2 separate regions of the Homo sapiens genome follow, and region 2 is linked to region 1. The links come from fine-mapping of genetic effects on gene expression. Tissue or cell type: monocytes after LPS. Region 1 holds a variant in brackets; the other region holds the start of a gene. All regions are shown on one strand. Distances are from middle to middle.

The links. PIP is the estimated chance that this variant, and not a neighbour inherited with it, causes the effect.
Region 2: it holds the start of IL36G, and the variant in region 1 is fine-mapped to the expression of IL36G in monocytes after LPS (Fairfax 2014, PIP 0.95).

What each region holds. Positions count from the first base shown.
Region 1 is chr2:113,070,578-113,075,726 of GRCh38, forward strand. IL1F10 (interleukin 1 family member 10) reads left to right here. Exons shown (of 5, transcript NM_173161.3): 2 at 2,134-2,193; 3 at 3,752-3,837; 4 at 4,146-4,273; 5 at 4,575-5,149. The coding sequence starts at 2,162. The coding sequence ends at 4,787. Among named protein-coding and RNA genes, the nearest start is that of IL1F10, 5.2 kb to the left of the region's middle. The variant A/G (reference allele first, on the strand shown) is at 3,031.
Region 2 is chr2:112,974,793-112,979,941 of GRCh38, forward strand. It overlaps IL36G (interleukin 36 gamma), which reads left to right and starts at 3,214. Exons shown (of 5, transcript NM_019618.4): 1 at 3,214-3,286; 2 at 3,828-3,901; 3 at 4,429-4,533. The coding sequence starts at 3,847.

The sequences.
Region 1 (5,149 bases):
AGCCCCAGTGGTTTGGCCAAGGGGAGCCCATCATCAAGTGGGCTTGCATTGAGGCCATGATGCTGTTGAGTTATCTGTACTGGGGGATTGTCTAGTCCTTTAGGACTCAAAGTGCTGGCCAGGAGGAACCAGCAGCATTGACATCACCTGGTTGCATATTTGAAATGTACAGTCTCAGGCCCCACCCCAGGCCTGAAAAACCAGAATCTGTTATTTTAACAAGAACTGCAGGTGGTTTATATATTTATTAATAAGTGTGAAGAATGGAATGAAAGTACACCAGTTCCCAAGCAGCATGGCTGATTGCTGGAATCACTCCAAGTCCTACTGAATTAGAACCTTCGGCCCAGGAAATAGTAATTATACAGAGTCCCCCAGGTGATGCAGATGGGCAGGCACATTTAGGAGCCAATGACTTTAACTGAACACTTCATTTAAAAAATGTTGAAACTTACTTGATACTACAAAGGAAATTCATGTTCATTATAGGAAAATGTTGATATGTTTAAAAAATTACTCATAAAGCCATAGGTAAGTGGTGCAACAACACGAGTAACATTTCTATGTATGTGTCTCTATGTGTGGATTTAAATAGAATTACAGTGTACACTTGATTTATAATCTGCATTTTTCACCTAATATATTTTGAAAATTTTTATGTCCTAAAACAAGCTTCTATAATATCATCTTTAACAAACACATACATCCTTATTTATTGAATTTTGCTATAATTTCTTAGCCAATTACCTATTACTGAAAATTCAGATTTTTTTCAACTTCTTGCTATTGTAAAAAATTATGCAGTGAACATTTTTGTAAGTAAACATTTGGGCAATCCGTTATTTTTCCTAAGAGTAAGGGAAACACATGCAATCACAAAGTATACAGAATGCTTTAAGACTTTCATTCACAGCACCAACATCCCTCCAGAATTTGCACTTGTTAGTCCCTATTATCCTTCACTCTAAGTCTCAAAGTCATACCCCAAGGCCTGGGGACAGAAAATGACTTGTCCAAAGTGACAGTGACAGACCCAGTACTAAAAGCCACCTTGGCTACAGCCCTGTTTCTGGAACTTGAGAGCTGAGGTGGTTGGAAGCCGTATCCTCAGCACCCACCTGTTCCTTCTCACCTGCCTCCCCAGGGTCCCTCAGCATCTCTCTATTCCTCCCTGAGCCCTATTACTTTCTTCCACCTGCCTTCTTCCTTTCTCTTCTCTCATTTTCTGCTTTCTTATATTTTTTCTTCTCTATTCCCTTCTTATTTGGTGAGAATCAGATCTACTCGGTAAACCTCAGCCCTAGTCATACTTGCGTTACTTTCCTGAGCTAATTTCCAACTCCTGATTAGCTCTGGGTTTATTTCCATGCTAAATTCTGGACTGGCCTTTCCAATGGGTGTTCATTTTAGGGAAGAGCTCTAGGACAGGATAACCCATCGGGAAGGAGCAGAGTCATGTGAGGCTGTGTGGCCTGGCATTTATACAGGGCCACTATCTTCACTGTGCCATTTTCCATCTGGAACAGAATGGGGGAGTTTGGATGGGCTGTTTTCGGCAGTCTTGGCCAAGCACTTCTAGTCACTAGGAATGATGTTTTCCAACTCTCTGGGGAGACCCCACCAGCCTCACTGCTGCTGGAGACCCCTTCTAGTTGTGCTCTCTTCTTTCACTCTGGGCTCTAGTTATCTAACCCTTGGCTAGTTATGGGGGCGGGGGTGTGGTGCCCTGTTGGCCAACAGGGCAGTGGGACTGGGTTTGAGCTGGGCTTATCCTCCAACTGTGAGGGAGGCTACAGCACACTCCACCCCACTCTCAGGGCTGGGAATTGTTGTGGCTCAGCTATTTGGGGGAATCTGTTTTCCAGTTTCTCAGAACCAGCGCAAGCACACACATCCCAGGCTCACACCCCTGGTGGCTGGACTTGCTCCCGGATAGCCTCAGTCAGGGAGAGGCAGAGCTGCCTGGAGCCTGCTGGGCTGGTGGAAGCCTTGGTGGATTCTGGCAGGCCAATTATAGACGAATGGCCTGGGGAACCCGTGCAGCCCTTGGCTGAGTGGTTCTAAGCCCCAGCACGTCTGCCTCTGGCTTCACCCAGCCTCCTTTTCTAACTGCCCTTCTCTCCTCCCCATCAGTGAGGACCAGACACCACTGATTGCAGGAATGTGTTCCCTCCCCATGGCAAGATACTACATGTAAGTTGTCCTGGCATGTCCCTGCTTTCCAAGCCAGGGGGTCAGGGTGGGAAGAGGAAAGGAATGCTGAGTCAGAGGATGAGGCTCCTTCTCACCTTAGAAATTGCAAGTGCCCCATAATTAAGCTTCATCATCACCACAGTAGCAACAGCTCTTTCCTGAACGTCTGCAAGATGCCAGCCAATCTACTGCCTCATCTCTGTTCCAAAAAGTCTGTAAGTGGAGTGTTATTAAACCCATTTTACAGATCTGGAAGCTGAGGCTCAAAGAGGGTAAATAACTTCCCCCATGTCACACAGCTACCAAAAGGCAGAGCCAGGAATCAGACTTCATGTCCTCTGTGCTGCTCCATCCGCCTCTCTGAAATGTCAGAAAGTTTTGAATCTCAATGACAGCATCTTGATGGTGGTCCCTGTGGCCTTTACTCCCAGTGTGGGCTTCTAACACTTACTTACATTTCATCTCATTTGAGATTTGCATCCTTCCTTATCTTTTACTACTTTGTTGTCTGTGATTTTGTCATAAGCTCCTTTCAGGAAGGAGGTGAGGCATAAGAAAAATCAAAGAGGACTCTGGGATGCATTTCCTCTGCCCCTCCCATGGACCCTGTAATGTCCAGGGCTGTGTCCTGGACAAGGTGGGTGGGGAGCAGTCCTGGTCTCAAGGAGGTGACAGCCTGGCTGGGAAGCAAGACACATACATAGGAAGCACATAAATGACAAAGCAGATGTCAGCACTTCAGGGCATCTAATCTGGGTTCTGGTCTCCAAATAGAATGCTGCTGGCATGTGAGTTGTCACATCTGGGTTGTCAAGGTGGCAAGGGGAATGCCAGATA[A/G]CACGCCCAGGATCTTTCCGGAAGTTTATTTTTATTGTACAAGTGAACCTGCTTTAAATATGTACAGTCATTAGCTAAGGGTATTATCGTTAGCTGTTATTGAGATAGAAAAATCCCCTGGAGGTGGTGGAATTTGTCCAGAGGTTCTGCCCTAAAAGGTTAATGAGAGCTCTCCAGCCCTGACAGCAGCTGACAGGCATCTTTGAAACCAACTAGGTGACTGAGCTAATACCCTGCATGACTTTGAAGCCTTTAAAATATCTGAAAAGCAAATCACACTTCAGTATACACTCAATCTCTGTACTAAAGAGAATAAACATTTATAAACAATTAGGGCAGGCCCAAAAAATTTAAGATAAGGTCCACTGTATCCCAAAGTCATCTGAGCCTCACTAAGAAATTTCTCAGGAAGCCAGGAACATTTTCTTTACCCCTCTGTCAGAGGGCATTGGCTCTCCGTTCTCCTCTGAAGGCCTCCCCAAGCCATGAGAAGGCAGGAAGCACAGCCTCTGAAAAGCAAGAACACAGGAGACCTTCCTTGCTTTAAGGCTGGCCTGGTCTTTACCTGCTCTTGGGAGTGACCATTCCCCTCTTACCACCTGTGAAGGAGAGAAAATCGCCCAAATGCTCAAGGTGGTGATTCAGAGCATGGAAGTGGAAGGGCTTGGGGGCCAGTGGTGCATAAAGGGAATGGGCCATCAGCACTGTCATACTGTTTCAGAATTAAATATGCAGACCAGAAGGCTCTATACACAAGAGATGGCCAGCTGCTGGTGGGAGATCCTGTTGCAGACAACTGCTGTGCAGGTGAGCTTCTGGGGCCTCCACCCCATGCTCCATCTGCCATAGGCCCTCCCTTCTCTTCTTCCCTTTCCTCCCCAGCAGAGGGTCAGCAGCTGCCCCCAGTGACAGTGAGAAGGGCCAGAGAGCAGCTGTGGCCTCTCCTAGCGAGGGGACATGACTCCTGCAGAAGTCCTGGCTCACCGTCCAGTCTGCATGCAGGGCCAGGCCAGGTGTGCCCATGTCCAGTTCCTTCCTGCCTGAGCCTTTACCTGCCAAGAGCCTGCAACATGGGGTTCCCTTGTCCCTTGACTCTTCTCTCTCTTCCCTCCTAGAGAAGATCTGCATACTTCCTAACAGAGGCTTGGCCCGCACCAAGGTCCCCATTTTCCTGGGGATCCAGGGAGGGAGCCGCTGCCTGGCATGTGTGGAGACAGAAGAGGGGCCTTCCCTACAGCTGGAGGTGAGAGGCCTCTCCCCATTCTAGGGGACACTGCAGACCTGGCCTGACCCCTGGGATGCTCTGGCATCTTTGTGCCTATCTGTGGATTCCCAGCCAGGTCCACATGTCCTACTTCCTCAGGTTTCCACCATCTCCCTCTGCACCTAGCACCAAGACCCTTGCCCTCTAGAATCTGCAGAAGGCAGTCCCTTGGGTAAAAACCAGCCCTGTCAGGTCCTTTTTTGGCCAAGCCCCAGAGGCCTCCAGGGCTAACACCTCCATCAGCACTCTCATTCTGCAGCCATCCACCTTGCCCCCACAGGATGTGAACATTGAGGAACTGTACAAAGGTGGTGAAGAGGCCACACGCTTCACCTTCTTCCAGAGCAGCTCAGGCTCCGCCTTCAGGCTTGAGGCTGCTGCCTGGCCTGGCTGGTTCCTGTGTGGCCCGGCAGAGCCCCAGCAGCCAGTACAGCTCACCAAGGAGAGTGAGCCCTCAGCCCGTACCAAGTTTTACTTTGAACAGAGCTGGTAGGGAGACAGGAAACTGCGTTTTAGCCTTGTGCCCCCAAACCAAGCTCATCCTGCTCAGGGTCTATGGTAGGCAGAATAATGTCCCCCGAAATATGTCCACATCCTAATCCCAAGATCTGTGCATATGTTACCATACATGTCCAAAGAGGTTTTGCAAATGTGATTATGTTAAGGATCTTGAAATGAGGAGACAATCCTGGGTTATCCTTGTGGGCTCAGTTTAATCACAAGAAGGAGGCAGGAAGGGAGAGTCAGAGAGAGAATGGAAGATACCATGCTTCTAATTTTGAAGATGGAGTGAGGGGCCTTGAGCCAACAAATGCAGGTGTTTTTAGAAGGTGGAAAAGCCAAGGGAACGGATTC
Region 2 (5,149 bases), 96 kb before region 1:
ACCAATAACTGTTTTAAATTTAGAGAAATATGCCTTTACAATAGTCCTATATGGTTTGGTTCTTTAGTCTTAACTCTTTTAATGTTTCTATTTATTACTGCCATTTTGATGTGTAGCTTTGGGGTTATTTTTGTTACTCTGTCCTTCATTTAAATAGCGTGTTGGCCTATGTGCCAAAGTCTGGGGTTTCATAGAAACCAGCTTCAGGAAGATGTAATGGATCAGCTCATAGGAAGCAAGTCTTTGATAATGGGCTTGGGCTATGTGGAGGAGCAGAGGCTTTCGGCCATGTCCATGCACATCATTCCATCTACGTTGGGTAAAGGCTTTACCACAGAGCCTATGCCAAGAGCTTCCTTGGCATTTTCCCAAGTCCACTAGAGTACAAATGGCCCCACACTGGTCTCTGTGGTTCATGGTACACACCATGTTGCCCCACCAATTTAAGCGAGATGAATGCCAACTTCTTTCCAGTGGCAATCTTCAGGCCAGGTTGCCAGCCTGCTTGTAGATAGCCCTTGATAGGTAATAGGCCACATGGCTTTGGTCCTCTTTGGGGGCCCCAAGGAGGACCTATGACTCCAGCAGAGAGCTCTGCATTTGGAGTCCGGAGTTATAGATTCTAAGTTTAATTTTACTACTAAGGTGATTTTTTTTATGGTTGGCAATGGTGGGGGCTGAATAACCTTTACTGCTCCATGGCTCCCTCTGCTTTGTTATGATTGTGTGCCTGGTTTCATGAAAAAGGTGTTGTAGAGATTCTAGAGATTGTAGTGGTGGTCAGTAATCAAGTTCTCTTACCCTACCTGCATTTCATTGATATTCCCTCAACTTAATAAGGTAATGAGCATGTTAAGTGAACAAACTAGTAGCAGGGCTTATTACCAAATGAATGTAGATTGACAGTGTCATAGAGCTTGGAAATTAGAATCTGGACTAAGTGTTTTCTTAAAATCATTTTCATATCTAGGGAATTTGGCCTTGTCAGTACTTATGGTAATTAAATTCAAGCCACACTTAATGATAAGCATCATTGTCATTGTTCTCCATGATAATAAATCGTTGATAATAAATAAAACAATCAATGGTAATAAATAAAATATAGCAACGCTATGTTCTTTACTTTTTATAACCAGAATCAATATTGATGGTTTTCTCAAGTACAGCCAGGGTATCATGTAATTATAACATCCATCCCTTCCACTTTAAGATAAACGTTCGGGGCCATTTCTTCAGTAGATGTGATCTCTGCTCTTTACTGATCAACCCCAGTGATTCAGTTCTCCCCTTTTATCATCATCACTCCTACTCCCTCCAATTTCTCTGATACTTATTCACACTAACAGTTAAACTAGGGACTTCAGGATGGATGCTGAGTGCTGGGAATTCTAGGAAGGGCTGGATTCTCTGAGTGCTTGGAATCTATTGAAGGGTCAGGACCAAGTGGAATGAGGGCGGAGGCTGAAGAGGACACATGTCACCCTCTTTTATAGTTTTTGCAACCTTCATCTGGGCGTGGGAAGTTCTAGCTGTACCCACAGGCTTTTGAACCAAAGAAAATTCAGCTGTTAGAGCTGTGTCCTGTGAGTCCTCTGAGCATCCTCTTCTTGACCCCTCCCCTCCACCTTCATGCTCCAAGCATTGACCAGACTGTACTCTCTTTTCAGAGGTCTGAGCATCAATTTGGCAGAGAACGCCTCACCTCCGACTCATATCTGGGGATAAGTCCTACAAAAGCGCTCCTTTGAGACCTAGGTTCTTTTGTTCCCTTTTGTTTCCTTCCTGTAGTTGTTACTATCTGAGATACCACAGCAATCCCTTAATCTTCTTTGGCTTTCCAACACACGTGTATCTAGTTCCTTTTATTCAATTCCCTTTGTTTGCAATTCCTAGCATGGATTCTGCTTTCAGAGGGATCCCAGTTGGAAATTCAGGCTTAAGGGATTTGGGGGGTCAAATGATGGGAATTTTAGATGCTGTTTTGTGGTGAACATCCCAAGAAAGGAGTTATGTTGACTGATGTGTAATGGAGGGGATTTTTAACAGGGCAATGGAGACTCAAGTGAGGTGGCACTGGCTCAGGTTGACTTTGAACAAAAGTGCACCTGGCATTACCACACTCTTTCCTAGGGTCACAGAAACACTGGAAGCCAAAAGTGATAGAATTGGGGCCATGGCAGGAAAGGACTGTGTTCTTCCAAGGCCAGAAAGGAGATTAGGGTGAAAAGTAAGAGACGTTGAGTCAGGAGACTCTTTGCAGGGCTGGGAAGAGGGGCTCATGGATGAGCTTATCTGGAAGGTTCTGTCTCATTCTTTGTGCTTTTCTTCCTTATAGATGGGTAAACCTGAAGCTGTTAGTGCTTCAAGTCTGTCTCCTAAAACTCACTTCACTCTAGTAGTTAACTTATACCTCAGTAAATTTTTAGGCTTGGCTACAGCAGATAGGATGGGGTGTATAAACAAGATATAAAAATAACTATTACCACTGATCAGGAACCTAGGGCAGAGGGTGGGGGATAAGCTGGCATCTGGGGCTCAGATTTGGGAGAAATCGCTGCCCACCTCTTTACTTCCTTAGGCAGTTCTGGAGTCCACTGCATTTTGAGGGTACCTGAAACTAGGATTGCCTCAGTTAAAAGACCAGTCTGCATAGTCCCTGTGGCTCCCCATGTGGATGGAGCTGAAAGAGTGTTAGGTAGGGGAGCTCTACTGCCTGGCTTTCCATTCAGGTGTGGCCTTAGGTGGGGTAGTTGAGAAATGCCACAGGGACCTTGCCTGAGACGTGTGGCTAATTTTGCTCTTACAGGATGCCTTTAGCCTGACTGCAGAGGGCAAGGCTCCCAGTCCCAGGAGATGGAGTCCCTGACATGAGAGTGCCTGGCATTTCCAGTTCTAGCTCTAGAATGACATGACAGGAGAGCTGAACTCTGGGAAATTCCCTTAGTTTCCCCTTTATGAGAAACCTAGGATCTGTCATCAACCTCATTTCCTTGTGGTTGATTTTGTGCGGATTGGCTCAACACTTATTTCTCAGCGAGCCCGGACAGGTGATACTTGTGCTAATTCTGTGATTTCTTCCTCCGAGCCTCACAGGATCTTCTGGTAGGAGGAGCTGGTTTTCTTTCATGTCATACGTTTCTCATGCCCCACCCAGGAAGCTGGAGCCTCCTTCTCTGCTCATCCAGATAAATGATCCAGGCTCCATTAGAACCCATCACTGACCTTGGAAGCTGCTGGAGCCACGATTCAGTCCCCTGGACTGTAGATAAAGACCCTTTCTTGCCAGGTATAGTCAATAGCTGGAAAACCTCTTCTCCCTCCCTCTGGAGCCTTTCCTCTCATCTGTGCTTTGGGCTTAATGAAGGGAAGGGCCACATCAGGCTGGCTCTGTGCTTTGTCCTATGTGTGGCTGCTTCTTACTGGGGAGTTGCTGGGATCCTGGCAGAGTGGCCCTGGCATGGGACCCTCCCCTGCTCCTAGGCAAAAACAATGCCGATGAAGGGGTGGAGGCTTCAGAGAAGAGGAGTCAGGGCATCAGGTGCCTGTGGGTTATTTAAGGTCAAATTTTATGCCTGGCCTTCGAACTCCTAGGGGAGACACTACCATACTATCTGGATCTCCAGGTGGAGGAAAATTCTACCTGTTCTCCCTTTGCTGATGCTTCCTTCAAGTTTCGTCCCAGATGTGGCTCAGAACTTCTGCCCAGAGCTTCGTGTCAGGCCAGGTTTCCCAGCTCCCTGTCTAGAATGAGGGCCTGTGGAGCTAGTGTCCTGGAAGGTCTTGGAAACATCTCTTGTGGTTCATCTGTTCTATGTCTGCTTTCACAGGTGCTGAGACAACCACACTATGAGAGGCACTCCAGGAGACGCTGATGGTGGAGGAAGGGCCGTCTATCAATCAAGTGAATCAAATGCTGTTGGGATGGGGCTCTGGAGGCTTAGGCCCTCTGCACTCACGCTATCTCCTGTGGAAGCCCCAGCCTTCTCTGCTCCTCTCTGTACACTGCCCTTCCCACCTGGTGCTGCCCACCTACCACTGGGCCCTGGGCTTCTGGAGGGTGGGAGCTATTGCTTAGTCACTGATCCAGCTCCAGTCCCCAGCACCGGGGCCAAGCACAGAGTAGGCACAAAAGAGGGTAGCTGGGCCTTGGCACACAGGTTCTGTGAGACTGCTCATTGCCCTCTGTCTTGATAGTTTGCCCTCTTAAACCAGTGACTTCCCTTGGTAGCCCTTGCCTTCCTCACCAGAGCTCACAACTTCACTAGAAAGAAAGGCTAGGCTGATGGGTGATGTGAGTGCTGTCAGTTTGGGGATGCAAACCCCACACCTTCCTTACAAAATGGCCTGGGTTAGATACTTTTCTCCTGGGTCTAGTAAAGCAGCCTTGATTATAATATTTCTTCATTTTTTTCTCTATCCCAAAATCAGTGTGTAAACCTATTACTGGGACTATTAATGATTTGAATCAGCAAGTGTGGACCCTTCAGGGTCAGAACCTTGTGGCAGTTCCACGAAGTGACAGTGTGACCCCAGGTGAGTGGTCACCCTGTGCCTTCCCCACTGTTTGCACTGCTGTGGCTGGGAAGCTGGCATCAGCCTTTTGTAAAAGTGTGACTTTACAATGGGGCCCACCAGGAGTGGGGAGAATTTCACACCTAATTGGGAAGAGAAGTCAGGGAGAACTTTGGGTTCCACTAAGATGAAGAAGCCAGAGATGGTGGAGGAGCCTCCAAGGGAATAGGAAAGCTGCTGTCAGTCATCTGAAGCCCTGTCTTATGGAAGACTAGTAGCTTGTTCTGCATGACTTCAGGGTGTCCTAAAATGACTAAATGGGTGAATACCACAGAAAGGCAGGTTTCAGCATCACATTGGGAAAAACTTGCAAAAGGGACCAAGCTCTCCAAGAATCAGAGGGGCTGCTTGATGTAGGAGCTCCCCATCTCCATGTGCTCAAGCAGAGGCGTGAGAATCTCAAGAGCATACTCTGTTGTCTGCTTAGCTCTCTGTGTTTGCTCATTTACTAGGGCAGTGATTGGCACATGGTATGAATGAATGAATGAATGAATGAATATGGGGGTTGGCCATTTGGTGGGTCTAGTTGGGATTACACTCTTCAGCTCTCTTCCAGATCCACTTGAGGATACTGCCC